Homo sapiens: one gene and its partners. The protein of the gene in region 7 interacts with the protein of the main gene of each other region in a pairwise test. Each region holds a gene or a part of one and is shown on either strand. Other genes may lie near its edges.

Region 1 (3,500 bases), on a different chromosome or scaffold from region 7:
AATTTATCTGTGCACAACATAAGATACCTAGAAATTGGTCCACCTAAGAAAGCCATTCATATATTATAGGTATAAAGCAAAGGCAGGAACTTGTCAATTCTTATCCTCTTCATGTGATACTTTTTCAGCACACATTTTTTGAAAACGCTGTGCCAGGCACAGTGGCTCACACCTGTAATTGCAGAACTTTGGGAGGCTGAGGTGGGTGAATCACCTGAGGTCAGGAGTTCAAGACCAGCTTGACCAACCTGGAGAAACCTCCGTCTCTACTAAAAATACAAAAAATTAGCTGGGGGTCATGGCATATGCCTGTAATCCCAGCTATTTGGGAGGCTGAGGCAGGAGAATCACTTGAACCCGGGAGGCAGAGGTTGTGGTGAGCCAAGATCATGCCATTACTTTAGTCTGGGCAACAAAAGCGAAACTCCACCTCAAAAAAAAAAAAAAAAAAAAAAAAAAAAGAAAGAAAGAAAATGCTGTATATTCAAAGATAGGAAAATCTGACTAGATTAGAAATTTAAAATGCTATAAACAGTGATTTGGATTATCGTTATAGACCACTTTATACATGCTGACATATTTGTATTTTCAAGAAGTTTGAATATGTCAGTGGACGTCTCTCTGTGATTGGCAATCCATATGAAGAGCATGAATTGTAATCAATTGAACCTTTATAGAACTCCAAGAGAGGAGAAGATAGCAAAATAAAGGAGACATTCCTGACCTCAAGAAGTAAAGGAACACAGCCATAAAAGGAAATTAGGGCTGGGCACGGTGGTTCATGCCCGTAATCCCAGCACTTTGGGAGGCCGAGGCGGGCAGATCACCTGAGGTCAGGAGTTTGAGACCAGCCTGGCCAAAATGGTGAAACCCCATCTCTACTAAAAATACAAAATTAGCCAGGCTAGGTGGCTCATGCCTGTAGTCCCAGCTACTCAGGAGGCTGAGGCAGCTTGAACCCGGGAGGCGGAGGTTACAGTGAGCCGAGATCGCGCCACTGCACTCCAGTCTAGGCGACAAGAGCGAAACTCCATCTCAAAAAAAAAAAAAAGAAAAAAAAAAGGAAATTAGGTCCTGATACATGCTACAAAATGATGCAGGGACCCTGAAAACAACACGCTAAGTGAAATAAGCCAGACACAAAAAGCCAAGTATTACATGATTCCAGTTACATGAAATATCTAGAATAAGAAAATTCACAGAAACAAAGATAGATTAGAGGCTACCAGAGGCTGGGGGGAGGGGAAAATTGAGAGTTATTGCTTAATGGTTACAGAGGTTCTGTATGCGGTGATGAAAACATTTTGGAAAGATCACAGTGATGATTGCACAACACCTCAATGTAACTAATGTCACTGAATTATACACTTAAAAATGGTTAAAACGGGCCGGGCACGGTGGCTCAAGCCTGTAATCCCAACACTTTGGGAGGCTGAGGCAGGTGGATCACGAGGTCTGGAGTTCAAGACCAGCCTGGCCAAGATGGTGAAACCCCGTCTCTACTAAAAATACAAAAATTAGCCAGGCACAGTGGCAGGAACCTGTAATCCCAGCTACTCGGGAGGCTGAGGTAGGAGAATCGCTTGAACCAGGGCGACAGAGATTGCAGTGAGCCAAGATCGAGTCACTGCACTCTAGGCTGGGTGACAGAGTGAGACTCCGTCTCAAAAAAAAAGGTTAAAACAACCTAAATGTAAGACCTAAAACTATAAAACTCCTAGAAGAAAATATAGAGGAAAAACTTCATGATATTGGATTTGACAATGATTTCATGGATATGACACCAAGTGCGCAGGCAACAAAACCAGAAATAAACAAATGGGACTATATCGAACATGAAATATTTTGTGTATCAAAGCATACAATCGACAAAGTGAAAGACAAATTACAGAATGGGAGAAAATATCTGCAAATCATCTATCTAATAAGGGGTTAATATCCAGAAAATAGAGGCTGGGTGCGGTGGCTCACATCTGTAATCCCAGTACTTTGGGAGGTCGAGGCGGGCGGATCACCTGAGGTTGGGAGTTCGAGACCAGCCTGGCCAACATGGTGAAACTCCCTCTCTACTAAAAATACAAAAATTAGCCGGGCGTGGTAGCGCATGACTGTAGTCCCAGCTACTCAGGAGGCCAAGGCAGGAGAATGGCTTGAACCCAGTGGGCGGAAGTTGCAGTGAGCAGAGATCACACCACTGCACTCCAGCCTGGGCAACAGAGCAAGACTCCATCTCAAAAAAAAAAAAAAAAAAAATCCAGAAAATATAAAGAACTTCTATAATTCAACAATACAAAATCAAAAAACTTGATTAAAAACTGGGAAATGGCCTTGAACAGACATTTCTCCAAAGATAATATATAAATGGCCAACAAGCATATGAAAAGATGCTCAACATCACTAGTCAGCAGAGAAATACAAATCAAAACTACCACAGTGAGGTATCTCACACCCATTAAGATGGCCATGAAAAAATAAAAAGTATTGTCAAGGATGTAGAGAAACTGGAACCCTTGTGTACTACTGGCAAGACTGTAAAATGGTGCAACTGCTATAGAAAAAAGTATAGGGGTTCTTCAAAAAACAAACAAACAAATAAAAAAACACTATTCCAGTGGCCTAGATTCTTTCAAAATAATAAAAATTAAAAACAGAATTATCACTTGATCCAGCAATCCCACTTTGGGGTATATATCCAAAACAACTGATATTGTTCCAGAGGCTGGAATACCTATTTGCACACCTAGTCACATTAGCACTATTCACAATAGCCAAGAGGTAGCTGCAACCCAAAAGTCCATTAGTGGATGCAGTCCATAAACAATATGATATATATATATACACAATGGAGTATTAGCCTTAAAAAGGAAATAAATCCGGTCACACAGTACAACATGGATGAGTCTTGAGGACATTACACTAAGTGAAATAAGTCTGTCACAAAAAACAGACATGGTATGATTCCACTTACATGATGTTATCTAAAGTAGTCAAATTGGTAGAAACAGAAATAATGGTGGTTACCAGGGGCTAGTAGGAGGGGGAAAAGGGGAGCTGTTGTCCAACAGGCATAGAGTTTCAGATACGCAAGATGAAAAACTCACAGATCTGTTTTCCAACAGTGCGAATGTACTTAATGTCACAGAACACTTAAAAATGGCTAAGTTAGTAAATGTTGTGGGTTTTTTTTGTTTTTTTTTTTTCTGAGACAGAGTCTTGCCTTGTTGCCCAGGCTGGAGTGCAGTGGTGCAATCTCAGCTCACTGCAACCTCCACCTCCTGGGCTCAAGGGATTCTCCTGCCTCAGCCTCCCAAGTAGCTGGGACTACAGGCACATGCCACCACACCTGGTTAATTTCTGTATTTTTAGTGGAGATGGGGTTTGACCATATTGGCCAGGCTGGTCTCGAACTCCTGACCTCGTGATCCGCCCACCTCAGCCTCCCAAAGTGCTGGGATTACAGGTGTGAGCCACTGCGCCCAGCCAATTTTGTGTTTTTAACC
Region 2 (3,626 bases), on a different chromosome or scaffold from region 7:
ATCAAGACCATCCTGGCCAATGTGGTGAAACCCCGTCTCTACTAAAAATACAAAAATTAGGTGGGTGTGGTGGTGCACGCCTATAGTCCCAGCTACTTGGGAGGCTGAGACAGAATTGCTTGGGCCCAGGAAGTGGAGGCTGCAGTGAGCCGAGATCGCGCCACTGCACTCCAGCCTGGGCGACAGAGCGAGACTCCATCTCAAAACAAAACAGAAAAAATCAGGGAAAACCTCATTAACCCTTTGGGACCAGAGAGGGAGAGAGCCCCCAGGTGCCACGTGTCTCCCATGCCCATGCTTCTACTTGACCTCTCTACTTTGGCAGACCTAGCTGAAAGGTGTAGGTGTGTTTTCCTCCTGTGGAATTCATTCCCCTGGCCATCTATAATCCACTCTCAAGCAAGGCAACAGGCAGGCATTTACCTAAGTTGTAATCTTATCTGGAGATGTTCCCAAGTGTGGCCCAGACTTGTGTTTTCCAACAAAAGTCTGACTCATTGTTGTACACAATCATTTGTTTTATTTGAAAACATGTCTACACTGCATTGAGCACCAACACAGGTGTGACCAAGAAACCCACAGTCCTGTCCCCGCAGGCACTGGGTCCAGTGTATGACTTGGGGTGGACTGTTATTTTTCACAGTGAGGGGGGAAGAAAGGATAGGAAAGAAAAGATGGCCATTATCCCAACTCCTGTTCAGGAATCTGAACAATGAGTTATTTAAACTCATCCAGCTCTTCTCATTCCCCTTCTCTCAATCAGCTGGTGTTCAAATATGGAATCTGAGGCCGAGCGCAGTGGCACACGCCTGTAATCCCAGCACTTTGGGAGGCCGAGGCGGGCAGATCACGAGGTCAAGAGATAGAGATCATCCTCGCCGATACGGTGAAACCCCATCTCTACTAAAAATACAAAAATTGGCCGGGTGTGGTGGTAGGAACCTGTAGTCCCAGCTACTCAGGAGGCTGAGGCAGGAGAATTGCTTTTTGACATCCTGACACATGTATAATTGCCGGGAGGCAGAGTTGCAGACTACGTTTCACACACACACACAAAAAAAATGGAATCTGAGCTGGTGGGGCCAGCTGGATTTGGGAACACACAGACACACTGTTTAAAATAACATCCAGACATCATTGCAAAAAATGGGAGGAATGGGCTGTGCTTCCGAATGATAGTTTACTTTTTCCTGTTTTATGAATGCTTACAAATTTAGAGGATACCAGAATTGCACAACCGCCATCATGACAGAGCATCTGCTCAGTGTAAAAACTTTGTTTAGGAAAAAAAAAAAAAAATCCAATGGATATATGGGAAGAGAAGTGCCAGGCTGGATGGTGCTGAGACAGAATGACCCCTTGGGCTCCTTTATTTTGTTCTTTTCAACAGGACCCCACAGATATTTGCGGTATGTCATGAGGACTGGGGATGTCTTCTATTTTTAAATCAGGTATTTAGTCAAGCTGCTTTTAATATTAAGACTGTACAAATTGATTTTTGTTCCCTGTATCTTTCCTCAGAGGCAGAAAGTGAATGTTATAAAACTGGCAGATTTTATTTCTCATACCAGAGGCTCACACAGGATTTCTTTCTGCATGGGGGACAACTGGCTCTTGGTTTCAAACACACTTGAGCCTCTAGCACCATTAAGCATCCAGCAGCTTCCTCGGCATCCAGGCTGAGATATCCATATTCCAGAACAAAGCAGCCAATGTGAAGGATGTGCATCACTGGGAAGAGAGAAGGCTGCCCCCTTAGCCCTGGCTCCTCATCATCTGAGGGAAGTGGAGGGGGCAGGTGGGAGCAAGCTTAGAGTCACCAAGTCATGGCTGGAGAAGGATTTGGGTAAAGCAACTCTAGAGGCTGCCTGGTGGCCTACTTGGGAGAAACAAAGTGCCTTTGAGACTATCGACTTCCTGCTTGTGATCTAAAATGGATGTCTTTGAAATGATTAATCTGGACCAGCTAAAGGCAGTTGTTCACCACGTGTTATCCAAGTTTAGATTTCCTAGTTGATTATTCACACCAGATCAGGCTTTAAAAGATAGACCAAACTAGACCAGAATGTGTACATTTCAGCAGATCAGCAATTGCAAAATGCTGGTGCTATTTACTGACGTAGCACTGGATCCAAGGACTCCGTGGATATAAATATTTCCAGATTCCTCTGCATTTTAACAATAACAAGAATGGTCAGACGGAGACACATGGTTACAGCATATAATATCGATCCAATGGTCCAGTGTTAGTTACAAATCAGTTTATACAGTTTTGCTCCATTTTCTATGAATTTTGTCTTTCAAATAATCTTTTATAGAATGTATATTCAAAAACATGTTTGAACAGCAAATGTTTAGAGGAGCCAAGTCTGGTGAACGGTCTTTCCTTCGGTTATTTTGGCAAGCGGAGAGGTCACCGTGGATTCTGAGTGGGCCAGGCAAGTGTTCCACGGGTCATCTTCTCCCACGAGCTCAGGGACAGGGCACAGAGTCAGAAACGGTCTTTTTTTAAGCACGTTGGCAGCAGGGCGTAACCCTTCAGCTCTTTAGGGCCTGTGAAAATAGAGAAGGGTGACGGTCGTGTCTCTTACTGGCATTGTGAATAGTAACTCCGTGAGTCCTTTTTCCTATTGTCCTTTGCTCTAAATCTTCCAAGTTCTGACACCTGGTGATCATCTCTTGTTCCTGACATTCCTCCTCCATGCCTTCGTCCTCACACAGCAGGGTCAAACTGCCTGGCTTTTCCAAACACGCTAAGTCCACAGCTGTGTTGTCCCCTGTATCCCTCAACCCTCCAGGTGTTTATCACTTGTCCTCTCCCCTCCCTTCCATCATATATCATCCCTCCAACTCATATAAGAAAAAGGTTTTTGGCTGGGTGCGGTGGCTCATGCCTGTAATCACAGCATTTTGGGAGGCTGAGGTGGGTGGATCACGAGGTCAGGAGATTGAGACCATCCTGGCCAACATGGTGAAACCCTATCTCTACTAAAAAATACAAAAAATTAGCCAGGTGTGGTGGTGCATGCCTGTAGTCCCAGCTACTTGAGAGGCGGAGGCAGGGGAATCGCTTGAACCTGGGAGTCAGAGGTTGCAGTGAGCCGAGATCGCACTACTCCATCCAGCCTGGTGACAGAGCAAGACTGTCTCAAAAAAAAAGAAAAAGAAAAAGAAAGAGAAAGAAAAAGGTTTCCTCTGGCCATGAGTGTAGATATTCTGAATTCTTAAGGAAGCTTAATAAGGAGAAAAAACTCCTTCCCTTCAACAACAGTCAAAGCTAGGAGTCTATGACCACGTATGTGGGTGCACGCAGGGCAAGAGCGGAAGATCTCAATGAAAAAGACCCCATCCTCAGTGGAACTCCTAATCCGAATGGGCTGCCGACTCTGTGACAGGCGGTTTTCTAGAAGCCTTTTCTCTGATGGTTGGAGACGGGCTGATTAGGCATCAGATTAAAACTTGGTTTGGGTTTTCTTCCAAGTTCAGTTAGTTGGAAAATTAAAACAAGAGATCAAATGTGGTCAGATCTCAACAGAAGTCAACTTACAAGCCACCTCTGGCTCTGACTCTCTTATTTTGGAAATTTATAAGGTCTAAGTAGACATTTGTCCTTCTGGGGAAACTTC
Region 3 (3,500 bases), on a different chromosome or scaffold from region 7:
AAGTTAATAAAAAACAAATAGGCATCTCCTTCTCTATAAAGTCCAAGGAAGTAACTCACATGTGTGCCGATGTTGACCACCAAATGTTTTTCCACTTCAGGGCTAGCAAGGCAAAACCAGCAGGGTCCTGGAGGCTGAGCTTCATGTAAAAGAAAGCCAGGTGTTACTATGGTCCAAGCACTACAGCATATAATCACCCCACAGAACTCAGCTTTGTCTGATTTTTATATCCTGAAAAGACTGGTATACAACACTGCCACAATGGGCTGAGCCTGTGCTCCTCACTACGACCCCCTATGAACATTTTCAATGAAATTAAACTTCCATTAGAATTTGTAACCAATCCACAGGTAGGTAACCCACAAGTGCAAAATCACACACTGACTAAAGTAGCACATAACTGGCAATAGGCTACAACAAAAGAACACTGAACTGGGTGTCAGGAGCCCCAATTAAAGCCCCAGCTATGCCATTAGCCATGACCCTGGAAAATTTACCCTCCCAAGGTCAGCTTCTTGTGTGAAACAAAAAGATGAAGAAAGAGAATCTCAATGAAACACTCTTAAAGTCCTTCCTTCGAGTTTGATCATTCTATTATTTTATGAACCCATATTGGTTTTGGAGGCTCTTCACCTCATTATGTTTTACAGACACAAAGGAAAGGTGCTTTTTCCATAGTACAGGAAGCGCCTCAGAACAGCCTCGAAGTCAGGCCATTCTTATTTTATTTTTTTTGAGACGGAGTCTCGCTCTGTCGCCTAGGGTGGAGTACAGTGGCGCGATCTCGGCTCACTGCAAGCTCCGCCTCCCAGGTTCATGCCATTCTCCTGCCTCAGCCTCCTAAGTAGCTGGGACTACGGGCGTCTGCCACCACGCCTGGTTAATTTTTTCTATTTTTAGTACAGACGGGGTTTCACCGTGTTAGCCAGGATGGTCTCGATCTCCTGACCTCATGATCCGCCCACCTCGGCCTCCCAAAGTGCTGGGATTATAGGCGTGAGCCACCGCGCCTGGCCCGTTATTTTATTTTTTTGAGACAGGGCCTTGCTCTGTCACCCAGGTTGGAGTGCAGTGGTGCAATCTTGGCTCACTGCAATCTCCGCCTCCTGGGTTCAAGCGATTCTCATGCCTCAGCCTCCTGAGGAGCTGGGACTACAGGTGGGTGCCACCATGCCTTGCTAATTTTTTGTATTTTTAGTAGAGACAGGGTTTCACCATGTTGGCCAGGCTGGTCTCCAACTCCTGGCCTTAAGTGATCCACCCGCTTCGGCCACCCAAAGTGCTGGGATTACAGTTAGTGTGAATCAGTTTCCAGCATTACATAATTCTAGATAAAAATTCATAAAGCTCTAGTTTCTGAATCTGAAGCTATAAAAAGAATATCAACTTTTTTTTTTTTTTTGAGATGGAGTCTCACTCTGTCACCCAGGCTGGAGTGCAATGGCATCATCTCGGCTCACTGCAACCTCTGCCTCCTGGGTTCAAGCAATTCTTCCACCTCAGCCTCCTGAGTGGCTGGGACTACAGGACCGTGCCACCACACCTGGCTAATTTTTGTATTTTTAGTAGAGAAGGGGTTTCACTATGTTGGCCAGACTGGTCTCAAAATTCTGAACTTGTGATCCGCCTGGCTCAGCCTCCCAAAGTACAGGATTACAGGCATGAGCCCCCACACCTGGCCAAGAATATCAACGCTTTTATCCCAATATGGGTATATAAGCAACAGAAGACTGCCTTTTTAGGACAAAGAAAATTGCTTTAAATGGTAATTAGCAAAAGGAACTCATCACTCTCAAGTAGATGGGCTAAAAATACAGAGTCCAAGAAGTATATAAAAGCATCACCCCTAGAGAACCATACCTATTTATGAGACAGGAAAAGAGGGAGCTATCTTGTAAAACTGGCTATTGCTATAACAAATGTTGACAGGGATGTGGAAAAGCAGAAACCTTCATACATTGCCAGTGGGAATATAAGATGGTGCAGTCACCACACCTGGCCAAGGCCATGTTTATATTTTATTTTTACTGTTGGTCCTAATGACTCATTGCACAATTCTCCCCTGCCAGAAGAGGCTCTCTTAGCAATGCTGCTTTCCAAAGAAAAGCCAAAATAACAGTTACTGTTCATAGAAGAAACCTCTGGAATAAAGGTACTTACGAGGTTTGCGAGGCTGCTTTGGATGAGGAGAAGATTTGCTATCTCTACCTGTGGATGAACGCTTCCTTCCCTGCTTTTCATTTAAATCAAAGAAAAACTGACAGGCTGATTCTTCCTGGAATGGCCAAAAGCAGAAGATTAAATGTTATTCAACTAACCTTTAGATAAGTAGCCGACCACTCACATACAAGGGAACATTCCTGCCATGCCATACCTATCTTTCTTCTCAGTCCTTTCTGCACACTCTAGGGAAGCAAAATATCTTCCCAGTTCTGATGCCTGAAGTCTCAGTCATACATCAACACTTATCCAAACTACTGCCAAATTCATCTCTTTGGAAAAACGAGTTAAAATGCAAGTTATAAAGTAATTCTTGCCTAAAGCAGAACATGAACCCACCTAAATTCTCTTTTCTTTTTTCTCTCAACAGGGACATAGTGTAGTCATACAATTTCACAGGTCAAACAAGCCTAATTCAGCCTTAAGAGATGAGAAGGCTGCTTGGAAAGAAAGAAAAGTCTGAGAAAGCAGACCGTGCATGCTAGTAAGGGAACTTGACATTCCTTGCTTTAGTGGGGAAAAAATTAATTTGAGAAAACTCTGCTATTAAGAAAATTTCTTCAGAGTGAATCTTATTTTCCTACTAGCAATCATCATAAAATCACAAATTACATTGCTATGAAGCTGCTAGAGCCTTGCCTAAAGAGCTAAGAACAGATAATCACTTTAGACAAAGACTTTACAAATAAAACTGTAACCCCAAACGTCTGAATCCAGTTTGGACAAAGAAAGACCTAATGTATCAAACTGTTAACCCCAAACTACAATAAAAAACACTAAGCTTAGCTGAAATCTACTAAGATTTTCTAAACATCATCATGATTTCCCAAGGGGAAAAAAAAGATTTAGATTCTAACGATTAAACTTGTCTTATGTACTAAACTATAACTAGGAAAAGAACACATATAAAAATGCCAACCCTCAATCAGAACATACCACAGGGGCAAGAATTTGCTTTCCTATGGATGCTTCCTGCCCAGATTTTCTGTAAGGGTTTTCAGTGACATCCGGAGGCTGTTTTACCAGTTCTGCTGCATCCATTAGCTTCATGGGAACAATACTGAACGCGTAAAGATACTTTAGAGAAAAAGAACATAATGACATTAGGGGAAATACTATTTACCCAACTGTAATCAACCTATTTTACTGTGAAGATTTCACAGAAAACATGTGAAACTCAGTAAAATTAAAAGAACAGCAACCAGCCCATCCATAGCTCAGAGAGTAAACAGTAAATCAAATGCCAATTCAGTGGCCTCTGCAGGGGCTCACCAAGGGTT
Region 4 (4,165 bases), on a different chromosome or scaffold from region 7:
AGGTTGGTTTCAGCCCACTGTTAGTGAAGCTGGGTGCAGAATGCAAAGCCTCTAAAAGAAGAGGATACAAAGTCAGGTGAGTAGGGGCCATTGGCAATGCTCAGAGCCAGCCAGACTCCAAACAGGGAGCCCAAGTGGTTTTTTTCTGGGACACTCTACTTGAATTATTGTTTAATTAGTCAACCATAGATCTTCAAAAGAGAACAATTAGTTAACATGATAAAAAGGTTACTGCATTCTTTGGACTATGTGTCATAATTATAACAGCGAATTCTGACAGTTTTAACGAAAATAGCCTCCACCGTTTTGCAGGTATGAAGATAACGTAATTATCCACAGGGCTTTTAATGTTTGCTGGACAACAATACGTGAATGATAAGCTACAAATGAAACTTTTATGATATAAAAATACTGTTTTTTTTCATTTATTATTTTTATAGGCATTCACTGAGTCAAGGTTAGGCTTGTTAAGTGATTAAAGGCAATTTTATTACAGCAGCATGTACTTATTCTATTCTAAAAGAATAAAATTCATAAACAGAAACAGCTTTTATATTTGTTTGCAATCTGCAAAATTGAGTTATTTTGCTGATATAAAATACTAAGAACTCACTTGAGGACCATGCCACCTTCTGAAAAGGCCACACACCTTCTTCTTAAATGTGTTAAAGTTACAGCGTGTCCCAGACTCATCCAGAGCAAAATAAGTAAGCAACTGACTGCTCTTGACTGTCCCTTCCCCAGCACTAGCACTGATTGTGCTGGGAAAAGCCACAGAGCAAGGCTGCACAGCCATATGGAGGAGGCTTTTTATTTAAAGGCAAAATACCAAAATAGCTCTCTGGTGTAGGTGATTTCTACTTTCACACTCAGCTTGTATATTAATTTCTTTCTCCTTAACGGGCTGATTTGGATTGACTTGTTGAGAATGGTATCCATTAGTAATGAGTCAGGAGAGAAAGGGATTTCTGTGGTTACATGTAAACTTGTGGTAGGTCTGCAGAAGTTACACGTGAAGAGGTTAGTGAGGAAGTCAGCCATGATCCATCTATGTGAAGGTCACACCAGCTTCACTGTACACTTTGAAGACTTTTTCAATGGCATTGACATAGGCAGCTGTTCTCAGGTCCAATCCCAGGTTATACTTCATGGCTGTGTGCATAATTTGCCTGGCAGAACGCTCCATTGTGTATGCCAAGGCAGAGTGCACAATGTCTTTCTCAGATGCACCCGATATACTGTCTTGGAACTCTGCCGTGGGTACAATGGGAATAGTTCCACCATGCTTTCCAAATTTTCTTTCTAAACTCTCTTGAACAGACAGGAGCAAGTGGTAGTTAGAATCCCTTTCATATTTGAAGGTCAAACGGCCATAGCTGACATGATTTAGATTCTTCAGCCACTCAAAGTAAGATACTGTCACTCCTCCAGCATTCAAGTAGAGATCTGGAATAACCAAAATGTTTCTCTCCAGGAAGATCTTATCAGCTTCTGGAGTTGTTGGCCCATTGGCACCTTCAGCAATGATCTTGGCTTTGACTCTGGGTGCGTTGGATTTGGTCAACTGCTTCTCAGTGGCAGCTGGGATCAGTATGTCACAGTCGACCTCCAAGATGCTTCCTTCATAGGGCTTTGCCTTGGGGAAGCCCAGAATGGACCCATGTTGCAATTTGAAGTCTTCCAGTTCCTTTGGGTCAATACCATCTGGATTCCATATACTCCCATCAGACTCACCAACAGCAATACATTTAGCACCAAAACGATGTAAATATCTCATAGAGTGTAGGCCCACATTACCAAATCCCTGAACAACAAATGTTTTATCTCTAAACCCTGGTGTCATTCCTAAAATGCTCATGTAAGAAGCTTCATTGATGAAGTTTTCAATCCCATGGAAGACACCACGGCCAGTAGCAGAGATGCGTCCATGGATTCCCCCTTGGCTGATGGGTTTACCAGTAACACAGGCGTGTGCATTAATATCATAGTGCCCTATGGTGCTGGCATAGGTATCAGCAATCCAGGACATCTCCCGCTCACCTGTGTTCATGTCTGGAGCAGGCACATCAACGCCAGGACCAATAAAGCCCTTCTTTGCTAGCTCCATGGTGAACCTCCTTGTGATCTTTTCCAATTCATTTTCGGTATAGTTCTTGGGATTGATCTTAACACCAGCTTTAGCACCCCCAAACGGCACATCAACCACTGCACACTTGTATGTCATCAGAGAAGCCAAAGCTTTTACTTCATCTACACTCACATCAGTGCTGTAACGGATACCTCCCTTGCAGGGCGTGCGGTGCTGGCTGTGCTGGGCCCGGTAGCCTTCGATGACCTCCCAGGAGCCGTCGTCGCGCCGGATGGGGAAGGAGAGACTCAGCACATGGTTGCAGGGCTTGATGATCCGCAGGATGCCGCGCACCCGGTTCCGCTTCTGCTCCTCGCTTTCCTGGGTCCTCAGGTCCTTCACCAACTTGTCCTCCACGATGCTGGCGCCGCGATCGAAGAAGCCCTCCACCATCTTGAAGAAGTTGGGGTCGTCCTCGCGGTCGGCCACCAACTCGCTGTAGTGGCGCCGGGCGGCCAATGCGAGCCCCGGCTGCGAGGCGGCGGCGGGCTGTCCGCGGCCCCGGCCCAGCAACGCGGCCGAGTGGTTGGCCGCGGAGCCCAGGGCAGCGGGCCCGGCCCGGGACGGCAGCAGCGCTTTGGCCAGGTAGCGGTACATCGCGGCAGGCGGAGGAGGGGTGCGTGACGGTCGCGGAACAGGTGCGCTTTCTCAGACTCCCCGCGACTAGGAAGGAAGGGTCCGGCGCGGGTTGCCCTTTTAAGCCGCAGCTTCCTGCCTGCCCGGCTGTCCCCTCCCCTTGGGCGCCACCTAACGGGGAGGACGGACTTTGGGGGCAGGGCGCCAACCAGGGCGCCGGACCTCCGGGTCCGGAGGTCCGGGGCGCCGGACCCGCCGCGGCCTCGCCGGGCCTGGCTGGCCTGTTTGTTCTATACTTCTAATGTTTAATAATTACCCAGAGCTTTGGATATATGCAATTCTGCAAAATAAATCAAAAGGAGTCAGAAGGCAATTTTATTTCCTAATAGACCCTTAGTTAGAATTTAACTTAAAAGCCATTTTTAACAAATGTAAACAATATCTCCCCTCCTCTCCATCAAAGTCTGACGGAGACAAATGAAAAGATTTTTTAGAAGAATAGGACTATATCAAGACCAAAAAAAAAAAAAAAAGCTAAGAAAGGGTACCATCAACAATCTTTACAGAACTTCTGGAAAGTAAAAAGCAAATGGTACTGGCCTGGGGAATAACCAAAGAAAATGAAACCTCAGCCCCGGATGGCAAAGGTAAGTGCAATTCTTCCAAAGAGAGCCCTGAGTGAAATTTTAAACAGGAGTGAACAAAACAAAAAGCAGAGATTGGGCCCTAGAGTACTCATGGCCTTATTTCATTTAATAAGTTGCATCCACAAGCAGTGGACCAGGAGGATCCTGCCCCCTCTCAGATAAAAAAGAGCAATTGGCAATGGCAGCTTTTGCCCCTTGGACAATGGTTCTCAAACTTGAGTATGCAACAGAATCACCTGAAGCACTTATTAAAACACAAATTTCTGAGATTCACTTGGAAAATTCCTTATTCGGCAGTCATGGAATGATTCACCTAACAACATGAAAGCATCCTAGAAGCTTTGAGTTAAACTATTAAATTATTTGCAAGAAAAACAACAATGCTGCCAAAACATACAACATAATGCATGTTAAAAATCACAGGATGTCTTATTATGAAGAACAAGGCAAAGATGCCTACATTTGCCATTTTTATTCAACATAGTATTAGAAGTTCTAATCAGAGGAATTAGGCAAGAAAGAAAAAAAAACAGAAAAAAAGTAAAATTACCTCTGTTCACGTATGGCATGACCTTATGTGTAGCAAACGCCAAATATTATACAGAGGGAGAGAGAGGGAGACAAACACATACACAGAGGTAATATACAAATTCAACAAAGTTGCTGAATACAAAATAAACACAAAAATATCAGCTACATTCCTATATGCTATGAAGTAAATATCTAAAAAGGGAACTAATAAAACAATTCAATTTACAATACTATCAAGAAGAGTAAAGTACTTAGGAATAAATTTAACCAGTGAGGCAAAAGA
Region 5 (3,500 bases), on a different chromosome or scaffold from region 7:
AATCGATACCAAAAGGTTTGTTTATGTTTTAATATTTTATTAATTTTAAAATTTATAAGTATTGTCTTTGATTTATAGTGATACTCTTGGACTAGAAGAATGTTGATGTTGGGCTGGGCACTCCCAGCACTTTGGGAGACTGAGGTGGGAGGATCGCTTGAGCCCAGGAGTTAGAGGCTAGCCTGGGCAACATAGTGAGACCCTGTCTCTATAAAAAATAATAATAAAATTAGGAGTGTGGTGTGTGCCTTTGGTCCTGCTACTTGGGAGGCTGAGGGGAGGATCACTTGATCCCTGAAGACTGGGGCTACAGTGAGCTGTGATCATGCCACTGCACTCCAGCCTGGGTGACAGAGTCAAACTCTGTCTCAAAAAAAAAAAAAAAAGAATATAGGCCAGGCACAGTGGCTCATGCCTGTAATCCCAGAACTTTGGGAGGCCAAGACAGGCGGATCACTTGAGGTCAGGAGTTTGAGACCAGTCTGGGCAACACAGTGAGACCTTGTCTCTACTAAAAAAAAAAATACAAAAATTAGCCGGGTGTGGTGGCACACGCCTGTAATCCCAGCTACTCGGGGGGCTGAGGTAAGAGGATCACTTGAGCCCAGGAGGTTGAAGTTGAGGCTGCAGTTAGCAGTGACTGCACCACTGCACTATAGCCTGGGCGAGAGAGCAAGACTATCTCAAAAAAAAAAAAAGAATGTTTATGCTATGTTTTTGGGTATCTAAGGCATATTAGGAACTTAAATTCTGACTGCCGTTTGCTAAATTCATCATGAATCCTGCTGAAAAAACTTTAAGCTTTCCTACTCTACCAAGCAGCCATCTAACATGTACCAGGAATGCAAAAAGAACAGTCATCTCCAGCTTCTAAAAACTTGGAAGTAATGGTAAATCATACATTGAATATCTCTGAGAGGTTGATCACTTACTGTCTTGAATCCTATTTTTGGGAATGGAGTCATTTAATCAGTGGAAATAAGGACATTTATAGGTTCCTCAAAGTACCTGATGTCCACAAGTCTATTTTGTTTCTCCGTTCCTCCTCCCCATCTTTTAAAAAAATTTTTGTTATAGGAAGTTTCAAACATATATGAAAGTAATGTAACAGTGTAATGTACCCCATGTACTTGTCTACTAGCTTTGGTAATTAACTCATGGTCAGTCTTGTTTCATCTATACCTCCACCCATTTCCACTCAATCCAAATAATTTTGAAACAAATCACAGTCACTGTATCACTTCATCTATAAATATTTTAGTATGTCTCTGAAGTATAAGTATTGTTAATTTTTTAAGCATAACTATAATATTAATACTTCACAAACTAATAATAATTCTTTAATATCAAATAACCAGCCAGTGTTCGACTTTTCAGTTGTCTCATCAAAGTCATAGTTTTATTACTTTATTGCAGTTTTTTAGTTCAAAATTATTCAAGGGCCACACATTAGGAAGCATTGATTTCTCTCAGTATGTAGGCTTCTCCTCCAACTCCCCTGCTCCTTGGAATTTATATTTTAAAGACACCAGGTCATTTGTTCTATACATTTGTTCTGTGGTTTCCTACAGTATGGATTTTGTTGACTGCAATGTGTTAGTGTCAAGTTGGTTCTTTCCTGTTTTCTGTATTGATAGGTAGATTCAGGTTTGTTTCCCCTCCCCTCATCCTGTCCTAAGACTACTTCATAGGTAGTGATGTGTCTTCCATCAGAAGACAGATAATACCCTGTTTTCTCTCTTTATGATGTTAGCAGCTATCAGTGATCATTACCTAAAAACATTATTATTTATTTTTTTCTTTGAAGCAGGATTTCACTATGTTGCCCAGGCTGGTCTTAAAATATTGGACTGAAGAGATCCTCCCATGTCAGCCTCCCAAATAGCTGTAGTTACAGGCATGCTTCACTGTGCCTGGTGCTGAAAACATTAATTCATTAGCACTTACAAAGTGGTATTCCTGTCTTTTTGATATTGATACTATCAGAATGAATAATGTGTTTGAAAATCACTGTCAAGATTAAAGCATTCAGAAATTTCTACTCGGGAGGCTGAGGCAGGAGAATGCTGTGAACCCGGGAGGCAGAGCTTGCAGTGAGCCGAGATTGCACCACTGCACTCCAGCCTGGGCAACAGAGCAAGACTCCGTCTCAAAAAAAATAAAAATAAAAATAAAAAAATAAATTCAGAAATTTGCCTATAAGTTTGTAAACTTTATGTAAAAATTTTCTGTGTTTACAAAAACATCAAGTCGTAGTATAGCCTGTCTCACAACAGTTACTGAACTATGTATTTACTGAGTAGTTTTTAAAAAACAGAATCTGTCAATTTAAGTATATCTTTTTTTTTTTATTGTTCATCACCTTCCTGAAGCACCTTTGAGAGTTGGCAGTGGCAAGAAGAATATAGGGATTTATAGGGAATGTGCAATACATGAGAATTCCAGAATTCTTGAGATTGTATACAGACTGATGTGTCTGGCTTTTTTTTTTTTTTTTTTTTTTTTTTTTTTTTTTTTTTGAGACGGAGTCTTGCTCTGTCGCCCAGGCTGGAGTGCAGTGGCGTGATCTCGGCTCACTGCAAGCTCCGCCTCCCGGGTTCACGCCATTCTCCTGCCTCAGCCTCCCGAGTAGCTGGGACTGCAGGTGCCCGCCACCATGCCCGGCTAATTTTTTTTTTTTTTTTGTATTTTTAGTAGAGACGGGGTTTCACCATGGTCTCGATCTCCTGACCTCGTGATCCGCCCGCCTCAGCCTCCCAAAGTGCTGGGATTACAGGTATGAGCCACTGTGCCCGGCCGTGTCTGGCATTTTTAAAAATAAATTACTTTTTTTTATTTTTTATTTTTTTTGAGACGGAGTCTCGCTCTGTAGCCCAGGCTGGAGTGCAGTAACGTGATCTTGGCTCACTGCAAGCTCCGCCTCCCGGGCTCACGGCATTCTCCTGCCTCAGCCTCCCAAGTAGCTGGGACTATAGGCGCCCACCACCATGCCTGGCTAATTTTTAAAATAGTTTTAGTAGAGATGGGGTTTCACAGTGTTAGCCAGGATGGTCTCGATCTCCTGACCTCGTGATCCACCTGCCCCGGCCTCCCAAAGTGCTGGGATTACAGGTGTGAGCCATCGTGCCTGGCCTTAAAAACAAATTTCTATTAGCAGATGCAGGGATACCTGCATATAGTGATGGTTCATGTTTGTTTCACTGTAGACTGCATGCTGATAGAATCTAGTGTGCCTTTAAATTATGGAAAATAAATTTTCTTCATTTCATAATAACTAAGTCACCCAATGTTTTGGGATCATTTTAGTGTGTATGTATTTTTGGAGATAGCGTGCATTGAAAATAGATTAGTAGGAAATGCGTAAAAAGTTTACAATTATTTCTGAAATGGTAGGATTTTGGGTAATTTTTTTTCTTGATTTTTTACTATGTTTTTAAATGTTTTTATGATAATAATGCTTTATATTTGAGGGAAAAAAGCAAATTCTAGTTCTTAGAAGC
Region 6 (3,500 bases), on a different chromosome or scaffold from region 7:
CCAGTTAACAGAAACTCTTTATTTTCCCTAACAATAATGCTAGGATCATCTTTACTATATTCTCCTCATCAGATCATGAAATTTTAACAAAACCTCCCAATTTACAGATGAAGTTAGTAAGTTAAGTGACTTCATCAAGATTACATGTAATTCAAGGCAAAGTCAACCAAGACTATTATCTAGCTCTGACTCAGCTCAGCTACCTTTCAACTATTCCAAGTGGTCTCTTCATCCCTTTACGTTGTCTGCAGTCTAAACACATGATACCAAAATACTTACCTCTATCTTCTCATATATTCTCATAAGTTAGTGTGACTAACCACTTTCAGGCGATCTAAATCTTATCCTTAAAAGGCATTTAAGTATCATTGCTCCTAACAATCCTTAATAACTAGTATCAATACATATGTGAAGATAAGAATACACGTCAAACACTGTAGCAAATGCTGAACATACAAAATTAACACACTCTGTTAGGTCCACGATGACAGAGACCAAGTTTGTTATTCACTATTATAACCCCTCCTCTTAGTAGCAGTCCCTGGCATACAATAAGTATTCAAATAACTGTTGTATATTACAAAATAAAAGACAATCCATAGTATAGGAGAGAAATGTGTGTACAGATAATCACATTAGCAGTTTTAATAAAGTATCATGAGACAACAGATAAGGAAGTTATTTTCTCTTGGTAAGATCTAGAAAGGCTTCAAAGATTTAATGATACCAAAATTAAGTCTTGAAGGACAAATAAGATTTCAACAGACATGGAGGCAGTGGGGTGGTGAGAGGAAGGTAGAAGGATTTAGATTAAAAAGGCCAAAGGCAAGAAAATACTGGCCATTTCTATAGAATTTTTAAACACAGGCTTACCTATTGTTGCTGCAAGTTCTGGATCAAACGTATCATCTGTGAACCTCAAGAGCAGGCTGAAAGAGATATTAAAAAGACAGGTTGGGAACTTGAATTTTCTAATCATATGATAAATGTGTTCATGATTATTTGGTCACAAATTATTAGATGCAGATAAAAATAACTGATGTAGGCCTGTTCCTAGGAATACTGCCTCAGAGCAGGTATACACAGAAAAATTAAATTACCAGAAAGGCAATTTAAAAATCCCAAGAGCAAAGTAGTTTACTATGAAATATATTCCCCGTGCTCTCCTACACAATCCCCCAAGTACAAAAGGTGGGGGTTTTTGTTGTAGTTGTTTTTTAACTGTTCTGGTATGTCCTTCTGAGAAAATGATATTAGCAGCATGTCATGCTTTAACTGACATAGATGAAAAGGGAAAAAATAAAGTCTCTTAGAATGCAACAAACTAGCTTTAAAAAATCTGATTGTGTAATCCACTCTGAATTCAAGCAAAACCAGAAATATATCAAAGCCGAGCATTCTGTAACACGCAGTACGGCTACTACCTAAGAGAAGATACAGTAAAAAGAGAGGTTAAAAGAAAGATCACAGGACAGAGTAGATAGACTCGGGCAAACACTAGGTAGAGTGTGTAAAACCAAGTAGGCAACTGGAGGCTACTGGAGGCTTTTAAAGAAAGTTAAGACAAGTACTGCTCTTTGTTTTGAAAAGTTAATACTAACAAAAAATGGAAGAAAATCAATGGAAGACAACCGCCATGGTTATGGCAAGAGAGAACAAAGGACTAAACCTAGGAAATGGTAAGAAACTAGAAAGAAAGGATAAAAGCAAAAGACACCAGATTAGAAGGGTACTCTAAGATTTTACATCTTCCAGAATTATTTTACTTACTATGAAGCAGAAGTGTCAGTTATTAGAAACTCTTCAAAAATAAAATCTAAGCTTTTGTTAAAGCCCTTGATTTTAAAGTCATTCAATCTTCCCTCATGTTAACTTCTGAAGTATAAGACTCTCCTAATTGACCTGTTTGCATGAATAAAATCAAAGAAACAGCCATCAGATATCTAAATTATAGAAAAATCTTATGACTCTTTCTATAGGTTGTGATTATTGCTGGTAGAGGTATGTTTTGTCCATAGAGTTTCTGCAAAACATAATGGCCTCCTGGTAGTTTCCAAACCCAGTGTCATTAAATATATTTGAACGATTAACTCTCCCTTACTTGGTTTTGTTTTCTTGTGTTTACCATAAAACCAGCATCATAAAATCAAAGTAAAAAAGAAGAGTCAAATTCTAGATTTATCTACTTAACATCTTGACTATATTTAGTTACTTGGAACATAGGTAACAATACTAGTAAGACTCTTAAAGACTACCTATAAAATTTTTCTTCTCTCCCAACATACTCAGTTACCCATAATTTAAGAAAAGATACATAATATCTACACGTGGTCACCACAGAAAATATTACTACAAAAACATAAGATTACCTTGTAGACTAGTTGTAATAATATCATAATAATAATACAATAATGATGATATTGGGTATTATTTATTGAACATATGGCAATGTGCAGACACAAAGCCAGAGGTTTTTCTCTCATAATTGCTAATCCTTAAATGGCCTTTGTTATTAACAGTACTTTGTAAGGAGAGGCAGGGAATTGGTGGCATGGTGTGAAGCAACAAATTTTAATACAGGCTCTGGGTATACATCAGATCTTAGACAGGGGTACCCTGGTAGCCCAAAAAGTATTCTAAATTCTATGTGTGCATTTTTCTAGGCAGAGAGTCCATTTCTCTATTAGACTTTGAAAGGGACAGAGAGTCCATTTCTCTATTAGATTTTGAAAAGAACTGACAATCTCAAAATAATTAAGAAGCACACTTTTTTTTTTTTTTTTTTAAGAGAGAGGGTCTCACTCTGTCACCCAGGCTGGAATGCAGTGGCAGAATCACAGCTCACTAATCCTCCCACCTTAGCCCCCCAAGTAACTGGCATGACAGGTGTGCATCACCATGGCCGGCTAATTTTTTTATTTTTATTTTTTTAGAGGCATGGTCTCGTTATGTTGCCCAAGCTGGTCTCGGACTCCTGGCCTCAAGAGATCCTCCTGTCTCAGCCTCCCGAGTAGCTAGGATTACAGGATGAGCCACTGCACCTGGCAGAAGCACCATTCTTATAGTATTGTATATTTACACCCTCATATTTTCAAAGTTAAAGGAGCAAAATGTTTCCCATGCAGAAGTAGAGATGGAAGGAGTAACTACCACCATGGCACTTAGATGTGACCAAATTTATAATAAACAGAGTGTGATTATAACTAATCTGCATTTTTTAAATTTACATATGAAATTCACCAAAAAAAAAAAAAAAAGGGAAGGCAAGGGGCAAAGGAGGGACAGCAATTTAGATAATAGGTCTCTCTAATCCCTTCCAGTTCTTGATATATTCTGCTACTCTTTACCTTACCAGGCCTAGCCACAGAATTGGAGTCTTACACATTTAGGGTCTGAGAGGTTTCTATTCCAACCCCCTCGCTTTTGAAATGAAGGCCTACAGCATTCAAGTATCACACACAAGGTCACACAAGTGGCAGCCCCAGTTTCATAATCCTGAT
Region 7 (3,500 bases):
AAACTGCCATGTGAGATTATTGATGCCTTCTCTTTGGGTTGTTAATAACAAATGGTAGCTCAATTCATGTCAAGTCCTTTTAAGCCACAGCTGACAAGGCATCTCCTTCTCCATCAATGACCCTCCTTGGGTCAATGCCACATCTCCAACCTTGGGTGGAGAGGTGAAAGCTCAAGGCTCTAGGCCAGTGCTTCTCAACATTAATGTGCAGAGAAAACACCTGGAAATCTTGTAAAAAGGGAGGTTCTGATTAGTCTAGGGTGGAACATGCCAAACAAACTTTCATACTTTTAGTAGCAAAACACACTTTAAGTAGCAAAATCCCAAGTCTCGGTTATTCTATGAGATATTGCAATATCCTTCTAATAACTTCATCTTTTTGCTTAAGCTGGGTGGATTTAGGGTTGTCTCCTGTAATGAGAAAAGACCCAAGTGATACACTACTATAGTCTCCATGGGTCAAAGAAAGGCCTCCTACCTCTTGTCTTGCTGTTTCAGCCTCTGCTTCTGAGGGAGGAAACTGAACGCCTTTCTTAACCAGGTCGAGGTATACTTCTTTGACTTCGCTTACATCCACACCTCCTGGGAAGCCCTGTGACCAAGTCTGAATTCAAGAGATGAAAAAAGTTCCAGAGTTAAAACAGCAACAAAACCAAAACACAATTCTTTTTTTTTTTTTTTTTTTTGAGACAGAGTCTCACACTATTGCCCGGGCTGGAGTGCAATGGCACAATCTCTGCTCATTGCAATCTCCGCCTCCTGGGTTCAAGCGATTCTCCTGCCTCAGCCTCCTGAGTAGCTGGGATTACAGGCGCCCGCCACCACGCCTGGCTTACTTTTTGTATTTTTTAGTAGAGACGGGGTTTCACTATGTTGGCCAGGCTGCTCTCGAACTCCTGACCTTGTGATCTGCCCACCTCGGCCTCCCAAAGTGCTGGGATTACAGGCGTGAGCCACCGCACCCAGCCGAAAACACAATTCTTAAGCTCCTGATAGAAAATAAGAGATCAATAATTATGTACCCCACTCAGAAAGAGAAAGCTACTTTTGAATGCCATGGGCAAAATGCTCATTTTCAAAGGCTAGGAAAATATAAAATCTTTTAAATCAGATTTCCATGCCTCAAAATCTTGAAGAAACCCTAGGATATATACTATCAATTGTTTTTTGCTGCTCTGAATCCAAAATTAATAGATTCTAAAATAACATCAGTAGCTCTTTTTCCAAGTAACCTTGAACTAGTCAGTTAGCTGGAAGTTTCCCTACCTGCAAAGTGAACACACAGATCACTGTCTTTCCTATTTGACACAGATAAAATAGAAACTGAGAGGAAAGCAGGGAAATGACTACAAATTCTTCAGAAAAAGGGCACCATCCAATGCCAAAAAATTATTATTACACAGAAACTAAAATAGCAAAAATGCTTTTCTAGCTCAATCCTAGATATATAAAAGATAAGTGAAACAATCAGGAGGTAAGCTATTAAATCCCTAATCTTAGAAATTTACCATCCCATGAGGTATACAACAGACTTACCTTAATGAAATTCAAGATTCTATTCTGAATGTCTAATGGCAAGTTGTATCTGGGATTCAGTAGCTTAACTAAATTCTCTTTAACAAATTCCTTCTTCACAATCAGAGACTGGAAACTTGGACCACAGTTCTGCACACACATGTCAATAAGCTAAATTAGAAAAAAAATTAAACATTATATTTATCTGGCAAAACCACCTCCTAAAAATGTAAGGGAAAAACTGCTAAATAATGGGTTCCATCAGCATCCTAATTAACAAACATAATTTAGTATCTACTAAAATATATGGCAAAATGTTAGGTTCTGGGGATATGTGGAAGTATGAGCATAATGTAACAGTCTGGAGGACAGACTTATTGAGGAGTCCCAGCACATCCAGAAGGGCATTAACACCAATGCAGAGTACTAAATGCTAAATGCTGAAGGGACGTGCAGGCCAAACATATGAGCTATGGATGGAATAATATCTGTCCCAGTTTACCCAGGGTAGCACAGGTATATTCCCAATGTCCTGTTTATTAATGATGACACACCCTTTCACTTTCAAAAATGTCCTGGTTTGGATGATAAATTACACAGTCACCCCAGCTATAGGCCCTTATAGGCAAGAGTGATTATTTAGGGCTAGGTGGTCTTACAAGACTTTTGGAAAAGGCTAACTGGAAGCTGGGCTTTGCAAAATGGCTAAGAACAGTAAAAATGAGTATAGAGCTATATTCTAGACAGATAAATTGTATGAAAAATATATAAATGTGGAAAAATGGGTAAGTTATGAAGGGGGAGATAAGTATTCTGGTCTGTCTCTAGTAGAGGCATCCTGATATAGGTAAATTGGGGACACTGGAAAGATAGGGTGGATAAAGTCCGTCCAGGTTGTAGAGAAGTTTGTGTGGCATGCAAAGGGTGTGGATATTATCTTGAAGGCACTATGAAGTTATGGAGGGTCTCTGTTAGTTTGTCACCATCACACCTGTACCCTGAAATTGAGGAAAAGGTTAATGTGTGCAAAGTAATATTCTGGATAGGTTGTCAGGCAGCACTCTGCAAAGGCAAGCGGAGGGAGAAGAAACCTGGAATGATAGAAAGATCCAGTAGCAATGCACTATTTCAGGCATGTTATAGAAAAGGCCTAAACTAAGATGATGTGGGTACAAGAAAAGGAGGAGTCATGACACCATTATGAAGGAAGAACTTTGAATGACAGTGCTGGTCAAAAAAGGAAGATGACTGAAAGTTAAGTGACTCTCATTCTGCATGAGGACCCCTGTGACGGAAATTTGGAAGAGGGGGTGGTATGGCTGGTCTAGGTGTAAAAATGATGGGCTGAAATTTAGATATTTTGAGTTCAAAAGATAAGGGGCATTTAAGTAGGTGTTTAGCAGTGAGCTGGACACACACAGCTATAGTTCAAGAGAGTGAAGGGCCAAAAGTGAGTCATCAAGGCTGCCTACAATGAGAAGAGAAGAGGAAGGGCTGAAACACTGGGGTTCACCTACTATACGGGCCAACGAAAATCCAAGGAAGGCAATCAAAGAGTAACTGACAGAAAATGAAGCACAAAATCAGGAATACATAAGGCACCCCTTTGGTAAAGTCAAAAGAAAAGTTTCCTGGAGGATGGGGTGTTATACAGTTAAGAAGATGGTCTGAGGAACATCAGTTCCCTTGAAAAACACATTTGCAATAAAGCAACATGAGCAGAAACTTGACTAAGAAAGAATGAACCAATACTGAAGAACTGCATGCAGGAAGTAGATTTCTAAAAGTAAACTAAAAACAAAATTAAATCTTTAGTTTCCATGCTACCACCTCAAATTAGAAAGGTCATAGAAACCATAGCATGACCAGGATAGGTATAATCATCTCTGCAGAATAGAAGCCCTGAAAATGGACTTCATGCCATGCTTTGTATTTTTAGTCTCTCTTTAATGGCAATACATAAAGCGGCAGCATATAGCGTTTAA

Evidence for each region.
Region 1: the proteins of TOM1L1 (region 7) and CELF1 interact in a two-hybrid assay, tested with the Homo sapiens proteins (one large-scale study listed by BioGRID and IntAct).
Region 2: the proteins of TOM1L1 (region 7) and PDPN interact in a two-hybrid assay, tested with the Homo sapiens proteins (one large-scale study listed by BioGRID and IntAct).
Region 3: the proteins of TOM1L1 (region 7) and CWF19L1 interact in a two-hybrid assay, tested with the Homo sapiens proteins (one large-scale study listed by BioGRID and IntAct).
Region 4: the proteins of TOM1L1 (region 7) and GLUD2 interact in a two-hybrid assay, tested with the Homo sapiens proteins (one large-scale study listed by BioGRID and IntAct).
Region 5: the proteins of TOM1L1 (region 7) and UBXN4 interact in a two-hybrid assay, tested with the Homo sapiens proteins (one large-scale study listed by BioGRID and IntAct).
Region 6: the proteins of TOM1L1 (region 7) and RAB18 interact in a two-hybrid assay, tested with the Homo sapiens proteins (one large-scale study listed by IntAct).

Annotation. Positions count from the first base shown.
Region 1 is NC_000011.10:47,546,633-47,550,132, forward strand, and holds part of CELF1 (CUGBP Elav-like family member 1), read right to left. Parts: intron 1-3,500. UniProt on the Homo sapiens protein: RNA-binding protein implicated in the regulation of several post-transcriptional events. Involved in pre-mRNA alternative splicing, mRNA translation and stability.
Region 2 is NC_000001.11:13,614,832-13,618,457, reverse strand, and holds the end of PDPN (podoplanin isoform a precursor), read right to left. Parts: intron 2,554-3,626; coding exon 2,547-2,553; 3' UTR 501-2,546; downstream 1-500. UniProt on the Homo sapiens protein: Mediates effects on cell migration and adhesion through its different partners.
Region 3 is NC_000010.11:100,243,639-100,247,138, forward strand, and holds part of CWF19L1 (CWF19-like protein 1), read right to left. Parts: intron 3,298-3,500; coding exon 3,157-3,297; intron 2,276-3,156; coding exon 2,161-2,275; intron 140-2,160; coding exon 60-139; intron 1-59.
Region 4 is NC_000023.11:121,046,245-121,050,409, reverse strand, and holds GLUD2 (glutamate dehydrogenase 2, mitochondrial precursor), read right to left. Parts: upstream 2,801-4,165; 5' UTR 2,726-2,800; coding exon 1,049-2,725; 3' UTR 316-1,048; downstream 1-315. UniProt on the Homo sapiens protein: Important for recycling the chief excitatory neurotransmitter, glutamate, during neurotransmission.
Region 5 is NC_000002.12:135,748,355-135,751,854, forward strand, and holds part of UBXN4 (UBX domain-containing protein 4), read left to right. Parts: coding exon 1-15; intron 16-3,500. UniProt on the Homo sapiens protein: Involved in endoplasmic reticulum-associated protein degradation (ERAD). Acts as a platform to recruit both UBQLN1 and VCP to the ER during ERAD.
Region 6 is NC_000010.11:27,507,304-27,510,803, reverse strand, and holds part of RAB18 (ras-related protein Rab-18), read right to left. Parts: intron 930-3,500; coding exon 874-929; intron 1-873. UniProt on the Homo sapiens protein: The small GTPases Rab are key regulators of intracellular membrane trafficking, from the formation of transport vesicles to their fusion with membranes.
Region 7 is NC_000017.11:54,910,852-54,914,351, reverse strand, and holds part of TOM1L1 (TOM1-like protein 1), read right to left. Parts: intron 1,687-3,500; coding exon 1,537-1,686; intron 605-1,536; coding exon 479-604; intron 1-478. UniProt on the Homo sapiens protein: Probable adapter protein involved in signaling pathways. Interacts with the SH2 and SH3 domains of various signaling proteins when it is phosphorylated. May promote FYN activation, possibly by disrupting intramolecular SH3-dependent interactions.